Linked DNA regions of Homo sapiens. Each later gene encodes a partner of the first gene's protein in a complex. Each region holds a gene or a part of one and is shown in the gene's direction. Other genes may lie near its edges.

Region 1 (7,344 bases):
GAGACAGATGTGAAAGGATTAAGAAGACAGGTGCTTGGAACTAAACTCAAGGTTACATGGTTGGTCCAACCAGGTTGGAATGCTCTTTGCTAAAATTACTAGGATATATCATATGGTTCTTAATTATGTTTCTTAATGAAGTGCTTTTTTTTTTTTGTTATGTGTTTATCAGCTGTTTAGATTCAAAATCAGCTTAGCTGTTTAGATACAAAAAATTTACCATCTTTCACTTTATAAATTTACAGAGTACACTCATACACCTGATCTATCAGATCAGGTATCTCATCCTGAGATAGGTGTAGTCATTTTTCTTTTCCAGATTAGAAAAATTAAGTTGAGACTTTGCTAAAGTTACACAGCTAGTAAATGGAAAAGCTACTCCTGAGATTTTTGACTTCGTGTATTAAAATCTTATGACACTTTATGCCAGGCGCAGTAGCTCATGCCTGTAATCCCAGCACTTTGGGAGGCCAAGGCAGGTGGATCACGAGGTCAGGAGTTCAAGACTAGCCTGACCAAGACGGTGAAACCCCATCTCTACTAAAAGTACAAAAATTAGCTGGGCATGGTGGCGGGTGCCTGTAATCCCAGCTACTTGGGAGGCTGAGGCAGAGAATTGCTTAAATTCGGGGGGGCAGAGGTTGCAGTGAGCCGAGATCGTGCCACTGCACTCCAGACTGGGCAACAGAGCGAGACTCCGTCCCAAAAAGCAAAAACAGAAACAAAAAACAAACAAACAAAAAAACTTAGGACACTTTAATCACAGTACTTATAATGAATCTTCTAATTTGGAGCCATTTTAAGACGGTAGCCTAGTCAGGTAATTGCCTGGAGATTCAATCCATAAAGAGCACTAAAACATTTTACCATTGGAAATGTAATAAAGAAAAAGGATATATTTAATAGAATTCCTCTGGTAGAAGAGTTCAGCATGTGGCTGGCACTGGTACTTTGATATGTGGCCTTTTGTGAGTGATAAGATTACTGCACCTCCCTCCTTCTCCACTCCCCTTTAAGGGTATACCACATTACTATGTTATAAGGAAGTTGGATTCAAGTAAGTGCAGGGATTTCTTTTTAATGAGGATATATAAATCTAGACCAGAGCAGAAATGATCACAACAGTGAAGAGAAACATGCCCTTTCTACCCTTTACCACTCAGCCATTCCTTTGAACATATATTGAATGATTATTGGGGAGTATAGATTAGAAAAAATGCCAAATTAATAATCTGGTCTGGTGAGACAAAGTAGCACCCTATTTCAGAATTCTTTCTATTGCAACTAATAGAAATCTCAACTCAAACAATCTAAAACCTTACAAGAAAGGCATTGGCTCAAGAAAACTGGCCAGTACAGAGGCAGAGTGAGTATCAAAGTCAATGCTGAGATTTTGTGTGTGTGTGATTTTTCTGCTCACAAGAAGGGTTGGTTCTCAGGTTGGCTCTTCACTGTAGCAAAATGGCGAGTGTTCCACATGCCAGAAAGTCTTATCTCTAATCACTGAATAAATGTCCTAGGCTTCCCTCTGATTAGCCTACCTTAGGGCACGGGTCCACACTTGATCTACTTGGCAAAGCCTATAAATGCTCAGTACTAATCAGATTTATATGCCCAGTTGTGATCTAATACTGTGGCCAGAATGACATAACAGTCCTTAATGACTCAGGCCAGTCTAGGGCAGCACCTAGAACTCTTTGCAGTCAAACCTACCCAACCCATCCAGGAGCTGCTACACATTGAGGAAGGGGCAGAATGAATGCTGGGAAGCAACTACAAAGAACACTGCACGTAAGTTTCAGTGGGGCTTTGCTTTTCTTTTCTTACTGTTTTGTGTTTATGTTGGTCCTCTTTATGGGTGTAAGCTCCTCTGTGGCAGGGCTGTATTGTACTCTATTCGTCTATTCCCCGAAAACTCCTCCCACAGTGGCATTCACTTAAAGCCTACTAAACAATGTTAAATTCTACTGAGGTGTAAATCAAGGTCTACGGAGAATAAATCAAGAGTAAGAATAAGCCAAGCGAAGATCACAAAGTTAATGGTGGAGAGACAGATTTAGAACCTGGACATTGTTCATTCATTCCTTTATTCATTAAACAAATACAAGGCCAACTATTTGTTAGGCATTTATCAGCCATTATAGTCTAGTGGGTTTACAATTTTTTAACATAAAATTTTAAAATAATAATTTTTATTTTTTGAGACAAAGTCTCACTCTGTTGCCCAGGCTGGAGTGCAATGGTGCGATCGCAGCTCACTGCAACCTCCACCTCCTGGGTTCAAGCAATTTTCCTGTCTCAGCCTCACGAGTAGCTGGGATTACAGGCATGTGCCACCACACCCGGCTAATTTTTTTTTTTTTGAGATGGAGTTTCGCTTTTGTTGCCCAGGCTGGAGTGCAATGGCGCTATCTCCGCTCCCTGGAACCTCCGCCTCCAGGGTTCAAGCGATTCTCCTGCCTTAGTCTCCGGAGTAGCTGGGATTACAGGAATGCGCCACCACGCCTGGCTAATTTTGCATTTTTGGTGGAGACGGGGTTTCTCCATGTTGGTCAGGCTGGCCTCCAACTCCCAACCTCAGGTGATCCGCCCGCCTCTGCCTCCCAAAGTGCTGGAATTTAGAGCGTGGGCCACAGCTCCTGGCCTAATTTTTGTATTTTTAGTAGAGACAGGGTTTCACCATGTTGGCCTGGCTGGTCTGCAACTCCCGACCTCAAGTGATCCACCTGCCTCGGCTTCCTAAAGTGCTGGGATTACAGGCATGAGCCACTGCACCTGGCCAAAACAATATGTGTGTGTGTTGTGTATATATACACAACACACACACACACACACACACACATATATATATATACACGCACACACATATATATCAAATAAACAATTACACAAATACCTACATAATTACCATGGAGACATCTCAGGAAGAAAAAGTTCAGGGTCCTAGGAGAGGTCATAACAGGGGAATTTGAATTAAAATGTGGGATGTGGGTGAGGGATGGTCTTCCTGAGGAAGTGACACTTAAAGTGAAACCTGAAGGATGAACAGGAGTTAGGAACAAAGAAGAGAGTGGGAAATTATTCTTGGTTCAAGGATCAACATTTAGAAGCCTTAAAACTTGAGGGGAGGCCGGGTGCAGTGGCTCACGCCTGTAATCTCAGTACTTTGGGAGGCCGAGGCGGGCGGATCACCTGAGGTCCGGAGTTGGAGACCAGCCTGACCAACTTGGAGAAACCTCGTTTCTACCAAAAATACAATCGCAGCTACTCGGGAGGCGGAGGTAGGAGAATCGCTTGAACCCGGGAGGCAGACATTGCGGTGAGCCGAGATCGTGCCATTGCACTCCAGCCTGGGCAACAAGAGCAAAACTCCGTCTCAAAAAAACAAAACTTGCGGGGTGCGGGGGCAGGGGAGTGGAAGGAAGACCTGGAAGTGCAGTGCGGATGAAACGAGGGGTAGTGGGAAGAGGCGGTAGGTAGGAGGCTGATTAAACAGGGCCTTAAAAGTTACATTGTTTTAAAGACCTCTCGTGTGTGGGTTCCACCCAATTCTTCAAGGAAATTGAACCCTGGACACCGTCCAGCGATTTTTCTGGCCATCTTGACTCAGCATCTTCCTTCATCCTATATCAGCACATTACGGGGGGGCCATCAAGCTTCCTTCTATCTACTTACTCTGCCTTGGCGTTTGACTCCTTCCTAGCTATCAGATTTCCCCGACTTTTTAGCATGGCCCTTCTGAGCGCTCTTATTTCACTTCTCCCCGCCCCCAACCCCACCGCCTAACTCTCCCAACTCTGCAGTCCGTGACCTTCAGGTGCCCTTCAAGGTCAGAAAAACTCGGCAAGGTTGGTACTTGCAGGACATTAGCAATTCAAAGAGGTGTCACACAACCTCACCATTAGATGGGAACAATAGCTTACCCAACACCCATATTTAGATTATTCCGCCACAACTACTCTGGGGGATGGTTTTATTTGCGGCGGCTTTCTCCGTCCATAGGCACCGCGTGAAGGGCACCGTAAGAATCTTCCCGAATGCTCCTGTCACGCGTCCCGGCCGCCTCTTCTTCCTCCCCGCCACTTCCCGAGGCCAGGCCCGCGGATAACGCCTCAGTTGCGACCCAGCTCTAGGCAGTCCGCAGGGGCCTCCGCCGGGGAGGGAAGGCACGACCTGGGGCCGAGCGGGGCCAAGCCGCGGGGCAGCACGCCGGGGCAGGCGCGGGCGGGCGCTGTCGCCGCGCGGACTGAAGGCGCGGGCGGAAGGCGGTCGCGCGGGTGGGCAGGGGGCACCGCTAGGGGCGGGGCTTCGGCGCGTCGGAGGCGGAGCTCCCGCGCCGTTCACGTGACGGGCCCGGCTGTAGCGGCGGCGGCCGCGGCGTCTTAAGCGGCGCCCAGTGCAGGATGGTGCTGGAGGCGGCGGCGGCCGTGGTGGCGGCAGCGTCGTTGGCGGCAGCGGGAGTGGGTGCGGCGGCAGCGGCGGCGGCGCCCGCGGGTGGTATAAAATGGCGGATTTCGAAGAGTTGAGGGTAAGCGGGAGTGGAGAGCGGAGGCCGCGGGGGAGGGGATGGGAGAGGAGGTGGGGAAACCGCAACGTCGCCGGCCGCCGCCTGCTCGTGCCTCTGGGGCCGGTTGGCGGAGCCCTGAGCCCCGGCCCGCGGACGAACGGGCGCCGAGGGCGCGGGGGAGGGGAGCGGGCCGGCGGAGGGCACGCGGGCGGCGCGGGGGCGGCGGGCCTGGGCCGCGGCGAGCCGGCTCCTGAGTGCTGCCAGTGGTCCGCACACCTGGCGCGGGGGGTCGGGGCGCCCTCCAGGAGGGGCACATGGGGACCCGACATCCCGGTTCGCAGTGAGGGCCGATGTGGGAAGCAACGTTTGATCTTGCACCTTCACCGGGGTGTACGTGTCTGTGGCTATTCACAAGTCTGCATGCTACTCACTTGGTGGAGGACTGTTTTCTGAAAGCTGAAGTTGCGTTTAGGAATCTCTCCTCTTCTTATGGCTGATGCTACCGTTTAGTCAGGTCTGTCACGAGAAAAGGCCCCTTCTCCCACCCTTGCCTCCTAACATCTTCGAGGAACCTAATGTTTGGGGATCCCTGCCTTCAATAATCGGCCTTAAACCTCGATATTTTCTTAGTGTTTTAGTAAGAAATCTGCAAAGTCTATGTTGTGAGGTTTGTGCACCCCTTTTACTCTTGAGGAAAAATATTTTTTTCTTCTCAGTCTTAAAACAAGATCATAACTTTATTGTTGATACCCTTGTATAGCAGAGGTCTGGAATAGGGCTGTGATGGGGGTAGAACAGAAGAGACTTTTTCCCCCCAGACTGATAACCTTTAAAGTCCTAACTAAGTGTGACGAATGAGATGGATTTGTGTGTATCGCTGAATTACTGGCGACATAAATGAGATGTTTACGGACAGAAACCCTGATTTTTTTTTTTTTTAAATGTATCAAGGTAGAGATGAGTGTAAACTTGAAATTACATTTACTGCAACTCGTTTGTGTAACACTTATGATATTAGGATTTCTTTTTCAAATAAGGAAGAGGAATCCGGTAAAAGGTTCAGTTTTGTATATTTATTGTTTTCCGCAAGAGATGGGATGGGGGAAGGATGTTGGCTGGTTACCTGCTTAGTGGACGTGAGCAAAAGAACGTATCCTCTGCTCTAAACGGAGATTGTTGGAGTTTGCACAGTGCCTGCCATATTCCCTCCTGCTGTTTCAAAAATAATTATTAAGTTCCCAGTAAACACATATTAATACATGTTATGCCCCATACTAGTTTATGCAGAGAACCATAAGTGTAGGTAAAGGGTGTTCATACTTGATAAGTTTAAGGGTTTTAGTGGCTCAGAGCCCCAGCTGTAGAGCTTTTAACACCTGTGGAGCTTTTCAAACAACGAACCCTGAACCTCACCTCTGTAAATTCATGCGTTAGATTTAGGATGGGTTGAGAAGACTGAACTCTGAAGTTATATTTATTTTTACCTGCCATTTTTAATTTTTGTGTAGTAACAGATGTATACAAGTTTTCTAAGTTCTTTTTTTTTTTTTTGTTAATGAAAACTTTCCAGGATTTTTATTAGACTCTTGTGAATGTTGTTGGCCAAAGCTTAATGTAAAGCGAAGAATTTACTCGCTCTTATAGAGCAGAGTAAAAGCAGTCAGTGCTCAGATTGGAGTGCAACCAGCAACTGGAAAGTGATAGAAACCAAAGAAGCTTTTTTTTCTCTTCCTTTCTGCCTTCCTCTCTGTTTTGGTTTGTGGATCAGCTTCATCCTCTTTTCCTGTAAATCAGCTGTCTTTACTTCTTGCATTTTTAGAAGATGGCCCCTCTCCCACAATTCATATGACGTGCCCAACAGAGACTAACTGGGGAGAATTTTCAGAGGAGTGAGGGGTGCAGGCTGGGCACATGCAGTAAGCATCATCTGCTTTTCTTTGCCTTAACTGCTCTGTGCAGACCCATGTTACCCTACACTTGAAGATGAACTGTACCCCGCCCTTACATCCCATTACAGACAGTAATGATGATGATGGTATATACCCATTTTAATATAGTGGTTATTCCATGCCTGGTTCTGGTCTAAGCATTTTTTCTATACTTATTTAATTCTCACAATTTTTTCAAGAAATTGAAGCACAGAGAGGTTAACCTGACCTAAATCACACAGCTTGAGATTTGAAAAGCTAAGATTTTTAATCTTAGACATGTAGCTTTTAGAGTCTGGGCTTTTCAGAGCCCGGGCTACACTACTTTGTTCTGGTACCTTGGGGTCTAGGTGGAGCTTCTAGCCATCATCCTGCGATTGCTCCTAAATTAAATGATTGGTAACATCCTTCTTGTGTGACATTATAATAAAGGAAGAAAAACAGACTAAAAAACGGAATAGAAAGAAAGAAAAGGGGAAGAAATAATCTTGGATTCTCAAAATGATGGTCCTTGGATCAGAATATATTGTGGTGGTCAGAGTGATGCTCAAGTAAATTATAGGACCAGGAAAAATTTTGGGCATTAGTTTGTTGGCTAACTTCTTGGCAGTAGAGAAATTGGTCAGCCGATCTGGATGCCACATATTTGGCTGCTGATATGCCACAGAGAGGATTTCCATTACCCTTCAAGGCTACTCATTTTGGACAAGTATAACCAGAGCAGTTCATATCCTGGCTAGTGCTGCATCTATACTGGAGATAGGGAATTTTGGGAAAGGTAATCCTCAGTGTGGTTTGGTGACCCTGGTGCCTTTGCTTTTCAGACTTGTGTGTCGGGGGTGGAGTTGGGGGGGGGAGGGTTGGTTATTCGATTAGGCAACTGTTAAGGGGGTCGCCTGACTATTTCAG
Region 2 (7,026 bases), on another chromosome or scaffold:
TTTTAATTGTTGAATGTTAAAGAATTTTGTATTTTAAGTTACTGGCATGAGATACACAGGTAATGGTTATGGTTATTCTTATCAAATACGGATTAACTGCTTGAAATTATTACGGATAATAAGGTATATATCTAAATAAGTGGGTAATTTGGTGGCCAAACTAAGGTGTAGCACATAGAGAAAAAAAGCTACTTTTTTACCACATTATTCATGAAATTTTCCAAGGTACCCCCTTTACTAAAAATGATTTGCTTATTCTTGAGATACTTCATGGTGAAGTTGTTTTAACTAATTTATTCTGTTAACCTCATTTTCATTTCAGTATCTCTTTATTGGAAATTGTTTTGTAACTGTTTTTGTGATCTTTTTTTTTTTTTTTTTGAAGAGATGAGGTCTTGCTATGTTGTCCAGGCTGGCCTCCAACTCCTGGGCTCTCAAGCAGTCCTAGTGCCACAGCCTCTCAAGTATCTTGTCCTCCTATTTTTGTCTCCTCTTTTAAACTTAAGCATTATGCTTCGGATAGTCTAAAATAATTGATTATATAAAACTGATTCGTTTTGACTCCAGAGTACATTAGGCTAATACTTTCTTATTTGATTTTCCTTTCTAAATAGCCTTGCTTGGCTGGGCACTGTGGCTCACGCCTGTAATCCCAGCACTTTGGGAGGCCGAGGTGGGCAGATCACCTGAGGTCGGGAGTTTGAGACCAGCCTGACCAACATGGAGAAACCCTGTCTCTACTAAAAATACAAAATTAGCCGGGTATGGTGGTGCATGCCTGTAGTCCCAGCTACTCGGGAGTCTGAGGCAGGAGAATTGCTTGAACCTGGGAGGCAGAGGTTGCGGTGAGCTGAGATCGAGCCATTGCACTCCAGCCTGGGCAACAAGAGCGAAACTGTCTCAAAAAAATAATAAATAATAGCCTTGCTTATGCTAATATGATTAATTTACATTTCTTAGTACAGTTTTGTAGTTAAAGTAAACTCCTCATGATAGGCTGTGAGAAGATAATCTTGGATTCAGAAGTTTGTCTAAAAATTCATGGAGGATGAACTTCCTTTGTGCTGGTAAGAGCTGGCTGTAGGGCAGTTGTTTCCAAGTTGTTCCTCTGGCCAGTAGTATCGGTACCACCTGGTAATTTGTTAGAAAGAGATTCTTATCCCTACTACAAATGTGCTGAATAAGAAACTGGGTCTTGGGCCCAGCAGTTTGTTTAACACGTCCTTCAGCTGATTTTGATGCGTGGTAAAGTTTTAGACCATTACTATGGGGTATTATAATAAAAGAGACCCCTTTCTTGATTTCTAGTGAATGGCGTTTGGGACAGTAATTGACTTAGGATTTTTTTTTCTTAATTGACTGGCATGGAAAAGAAATGCTGTTTGTATTCTCAGGTGCAGATTTTGCATCCTGAATGAAAGTAATGGATACTCATAAGTGAGTAATTAAAATAGCATGTAGGAACTTTTATCTTGAAATTTAATTTTCTTTCAGGAGGCAAAACCTTCAACTGAGGACTTGGGGGATAAGAAGGAAGGTGAATATATTAAACTCAAAGTCATTGGACAGGTGAGTTTCATTGTTTTTCTCTTTTGAGTCCCCTTCAATGTGAATACTTTTTCACAGGAAAAAAAATTATTTAAGGCAAATTATTTTAAAATGACTATGTATGCATTTTAATTTACTGTGTATGCATCTGTTAGAGGTAGAAGAGGCCGATACTGTTTTTTAAATTACTCTGCCAGGCAGTTTTAGATCATCTTAATTTTTCCAAATAGGAATGTTTTCTTGGTTAGTGTGCTTCAGGGGCAAATACAGTGAATACTATTAAGTGTTAAGGCTAGGGCCAACCTTAAGTAAAAGGTTTATCAGCCCTTTTCCTGACCCTTTTCTGGCCCCCTATTTCCCTAGACTCTAGTCTGTATCTTTTTTTTTTTTGAGATGGAGTCTTGTTCTGTCACCCAGGCTGGAGTGCAGTGGTGCGATCTCGGCTCACTGCAAGCTCCGCCTGCCGGGTTCACGCCATTCTCCTGCCTCAGCCTCCCAAGTAGCTGGGACTACAGGCGCCCGCCACCATGCCCGGCTAATTTTTTTTGTATTTTTAGTAGAGACGGGGTTTCACTGTGTTAGCCAGGGTGGTCTTGATCTCCTGGCCTCGTGATCCGCCAGCCTCGGCCTCCCAAAGTGCTGGGATTACAGGCGTGAGCCACCGCGCCTGGCTCTAGTCTGTATCTTATTGATTCTGAAATGTTAATTAAGGTTAGCTAACAACCGTTGGAGGAATGAATCTACATAGTTACGTGGGTTTTCTAAAGGACAAAAGACAGAGAATTGGTGGAAGGGTGGACTCGCCCAGGATGGAGTGCAGTGGTATTTCTATTGAAGTGTGACAGTACCATTTCCCTATATTCTCCCAAACATGGGATATTAACAGTCTTTAAATTTTGTTCAAATATGCTAGGTAAAACATTTTTGTTTATTTTTCATTTACCTGATTATTAATAAGGTATAATTTTTTTGGTCTGTTACATTTATATTCTTCTGTTAATTGTGTTCATACCCTTTTCCCATTTTTCTGTGATTATCTTATTTTGAAGACTTTTATTTTTTATTTTCAAAATTTTTTAAATTTAAATTTTATTTTGAAATGGAGTTGTGCTCTTGTTGGCAGGCTGGAGTGCAATGGCGTGATCTTGGCTCACTGCACCCTTCACTCCTGGGTTCAGGTGATTCTCCTGCCTCAGCCTCCCGAGTAGCTGGGACTACAGGTGCCTGCCACGAAGCCTGACTAATTTTTTTAAAAAATATTTTTAGTAGAGACGGGGTTTCCCCATGTTGGCCAGGCTGGTCTCGAACTCCTGACCTCAGGTGATCCCCACCCGTCTCGGCCTCCCAGAGTTCTGGGATTACAGGTGTGAGCCACCATGCCGGCTTTATTTTGAAAACTTTTAAAAGATAAAATTCACATACTATAAAATTCACTATTTTAAAGTATATAATTCAGGGGCTTTAGTATTATTCACAAGTGTGTGCAGCCATCACCACTACTAATTCCAGAACATTTGCATTACCCCAAAAAGACACCCTGTACCCATTAGCAGTCATTCCCCATCCTATTTCCTCCAGCCAGTGACAACCATGATTCTACTTTCTGTCTCTATAGGTTTGCCTTTTGTGGACATTACATATAAATGGAATCATAAGATATATGGCTTTTTTTTTTTTTTTTTTTTTTTGAGGCAAGGGTCTCGCTGTGTCACCCAGGCTGGAGTGCAGTGGCCTGATCTCAACTCACTGCGACCTCAACCTCCTGGGTTCAAGCGACCCTCCTGCCATAGCCTCCTGAGTAGCTGGGATTTCAGGTGTGCACCACCATGCCCAGCTAATTTTTGTATTTTTAGTAGAGATGGGGTTTCGCCATGTTGGCCAGGCTGGTCTCAAACTCCTGACCTCAGATGATCCGCCTACCTCGGCCTCCCACAGTGTTGGGATTACAGGCATGAGCCACCATGCCTAGCTTTGATATGTGACTTTTTATTCTGGTTTGTTTCTTCTTTTCTGCCTTGCTTCCCTGTTCCTCTTCCCCTCCCTCCCCTCCCCCCCTCCCCATCCCCGTCTCCCTCTCCAGGGTTCTCGCTATGTTGCTCAGGCTGGTCTTGAACTCTTGGGCTTAAGTGATTCTCCCTCTTTGGCCTAAAGTTCTGGGATTATAGGTGTGAGCCACTATGCCTGGCCTGGCTTCTTTGTTTTAGCATGTTTTCAAGGTTCATTCATGCTGTAGCATGTATCAGTACTATATTCCTTTTAATGGCTGAATTCTGTTCCATTATATGGGTAGAATATATTTTGTTTTCCATTTATCAGTTGATATTTAGTTTGTCCCCATATTTTGGCTACTATTAATAATGTTGCTGTGAACATTCATGTGTGTTTTTGTATGGACATATGTTTTCAGCTCCCTTGGATATATACCTAGGAGTGGAATTGCTGGGTCTAGTATGCAACTATATGTTTTACTTTTTGAGGAACTGCCAAACTGTTTTCAGCAGTGGCCCTACCATCTTACATTCCTAGCAGCAACATATGAGGGTTTCAGTTTTTCCATATTCTGGTCAACACTTGTAATTATCCGTATTTTTGGTTATAATCCTAGTGGGTGTGAAGTGGTATCTCACTGTGGTTTCAACTTGCTCTTTCCTGATGGCTAATGATGCCAAGCATTTTTTTATGTACTTATTGGCCATTAGTACATCTTCTTTGGAAAAATGAAGTTCTTTAGATCTTTTGCCCATTTTTAAATTGGGTTAGTTGTCTTTTTATTGTTGAGTGGTAATATGTCTTTTATTCTGGGTATTAGACCTTTATCATATATATGATTTGCATGGATTTTCTCCTATCTTTGAGTTGTCTTTTCACTTTCTTGGTTTTATTCTTTGCAGCGTAAAGTTTTTAATTTTGGTAAATTAAGTTCATCTGTTTTTTCTTTTGTTGCTTGTAATTTATCTAAGAAACCATTACCTAATCCAGGGTCACAAAGGTTTACGCTTGTGGTTTAAGAGTTTTAAGGCTGGGCACAATGGCTCACACCTGTAATCTCAGCATTTTGGGAGGCCAAGGTGGGCAGATTGCTTGAGCTCAGGAGCTGGAGACCAGCCTGGGCAACATGGCGAAACCCCATCTCTACAAAAAATATAAAAAATTAGTAGGGCGTGGTGGCACATGCCTGTAGTCCCAGCTACTCAGGAGGCTGAGCAGGGAGAATCACTTGAGCCTGGGAGGTCAAGGCTGCAGTAAGCTGTGATCACGTGACTGTACTCCAGTCTGGGTGACAGAGTGAGACCCTGTCTCAAAAAAAAAAAAAAAAAAGTTTTATGGTTTTATTTATAGTTTTAGCTCTTACATTTAAATCTTTCATCATTTTGAATAATTTTTTATGGGTGTTTGTCCCAGACCATTAGTTGAAAAGACTGTCCTTTTCTCACTGAATTGTTCTGGTATCCTTGTCAAAAAATTGACTATAGATATAAGGGTTTTTTCTTGGCTCTCAATTTTATGCCATTGATCTATCTATATGTCCATATGCCATGGAATGTCTTTTTAAGAATTATTAATTTGTGGGATTTTTAAAAATATTGTCTTCATTTTCCTTGTCTGTTACATGTTATGAATATTTCCTCCAGTATGTCTTAACTTTTGTTTATGGCATCTTTTACTATACAGACGTTTTATGTTTTTATTAAGTCAAATTTATCCACCTCTTTTTTTTATGGTTTCTAGGTTAAAATCATGCTTTGCAATAGGGCATCCCAAGGCCAAAATTAGGGGAAAAAAATTCTCCCTTGAGGGGAAAATATTGAGAATTTTTTTTTTTTTTTTTTTGATGTGGAGCCTTGTCCTGTCATGCAGGCTGGAGTGCAGTGGTACTTCCGGCTCACTGCAACATCCGCCTCCCAGGTTCAAGCACTTCTCCTGCCTCAGCCTCCCGAGTAGTTGGGATTACATGCAACTGTCACCACACCCGGCTAATTTTTTATATTTTTAGTAGAGATAGGGTTTCATCATGTTGGCCAGGCTGGTCTTGAACTCCTGACCTCGTGATCTGCCCGGCTTGACCTCCCAAAGTGTTGGGATTACAGGAGTGAGCCACTGCACCTGGCCAAAAAAATTTTAATGTTAGCTCTTTAATTCATCTGCAAGTGATTTTTTTTTTTTTTTTTTGAGATGGCGTCTCACTCTGTTGCCCAGGCTGGAGTACAGTGGCGAGATCTAGGTTCACTGCAGCCTCCGCGTCCTGGGTTCAAGCGATTCTCCTGCCTCACCCTCCCGAGTAGCTGGGATTACAGGCATGCGCCACCACGCCTGGCTAATTTTTTTGTATTTTTAGTAGAAATGGCGTTCACCATGTTGGTCAGGCTGGTCTCGAACTCCTGAACTCAAATGATCCTCCTGCTTTGGCCTCCCAAAGTGTTGGGATTATAGGCATGAGCCACCATGCCCAGCCTGGAATTGATTTTAATGTATAGCATGAGGTTTGCTGTAGAATTTTATCTGTTTATGAAATGATCTATGTGAAGATAATTTTATTTCTTCATAGTTACAGTCACAAGAAAAATACTGTAAATGTGCAGCTTCTGCAAATACACATTTGTGAATGTGATATGTAGTCATGAAGTTTGGCTTTGAAAGTTTACATTATGCAAGTAACAGTATTTTTTCTGAGGATTGGCTGGCTGATAGTTTGTTTCACAATCTGAGCAGAATAAAATAATTTTTGGTCTCACAAATCAGTTTGACTAACTCAGGTTCTTACTCATTTTACTCATGTGAGAGAAACCAGATTCCATGTGGTGATTTTTTTTTTTTTTTTTTTTTTGAGATGGAGTACTGTTCTGTTTCCCAGGCTGGAGTGCAGTGGCGTGTTCTTGGCTCACTGCAACCTACACCTCCTGGGTTCAAGCAATTCTTCTGCCTCAGCCTCCTGAGTAGCTGGGACTACAGGTGTGTGCCACCATGCCTGGCTAATTTTTGTATTTTTAGTAGAGACGGGGTTTCACTATACTGGCCAGGCTGGTCTTGAACTCCTGACCTTGTGATCCGCCTGCCTTGGTCTCCCAAATTGCTGGGATTACAGGCATGAGCCACTGCGCTCAGCCCCATGTGGTGATTTTTTATGGCAGGAATAAATTTCTCAGTCGCTTATTGTATAAAATTGAATTTTATACAATTAATTATTATCTAATTAACTGCTTTTCTCCTAGGCGACCACCTTCAGTGACACTTCACTTGGGGGGACAGACTTTTTGTTTTGAGTTGCTATTGGGATAAATAAAAGATGCGATAGTTCATCTTTTATTTTGACAATAGAATGGCAAATGAAGGAATGCATTTACTTAGACTTTTACTTATACTGATAATTTTAACACTCAAGACTGATTAACTTTGTTTTACTCGGTTTCTTTTGTAATGGGTATACAGTAACTTTGAGGATGATTACACTGTTTTAAGAAAACCTGTTAAGAATGCTAA

Evidence for each region.
Region 2: the proteins of PIAS2 (region 1) and SUMO1 are in contact, whole or in part, in an NMR structure (PDB 2ASQ), measured with the Homo sapiens proteins. Residues at the interface, in NP_004662.2 of Homo sapiens: Lys466, Val467, Asp468, Val469, Ile470, Asp471, Leu472, Thr473, Ile474, Glu475, Asp479; in NP_001005781.1 of Homo sapiens: Tyr21, Lys23, Val26, Glu33, Ile34, His35, Phe36, Lys37, Val38, Lys39, Thr42, Lys46, Leu47, Ser50, Tyr51, Gln53, Arg54.

What each region holds. Positions count from the first base shown.
Region 1 is NC_000018.10:46,914,506-46,921,849, reverse strand, and holds the start of PIAS2 (E3 SUMO-protein ligase PIAS2), read left to right. Parts: upstream 1-4,342; 5' UTR 4,343-4,504; coding exon 4,505-4,528; intron 4,529-7,344. UniProt on the Homo sapiens protein: Functions as an E3-type small ubiquitin-like modifier (SUMO) ligase, stabilizing the interaction between UBE2I and the substrate, and as a SUMO-tethering factor.
Region 2 is NC_000002.12:202,214,575-202,221,600, reverse strand, and holds part of SUMO1 (small ubiquitin-related modifier 1 isoform a precursor), read left to right. Parts: intron 1-1,494; coding exon 1,495-1,569; intron 1,570-7,026. UniProt on the Homo sapiens protein: Ubiquitin-like protein that can be covalently attached to proteins as a monomer or a lysine-linked polymer.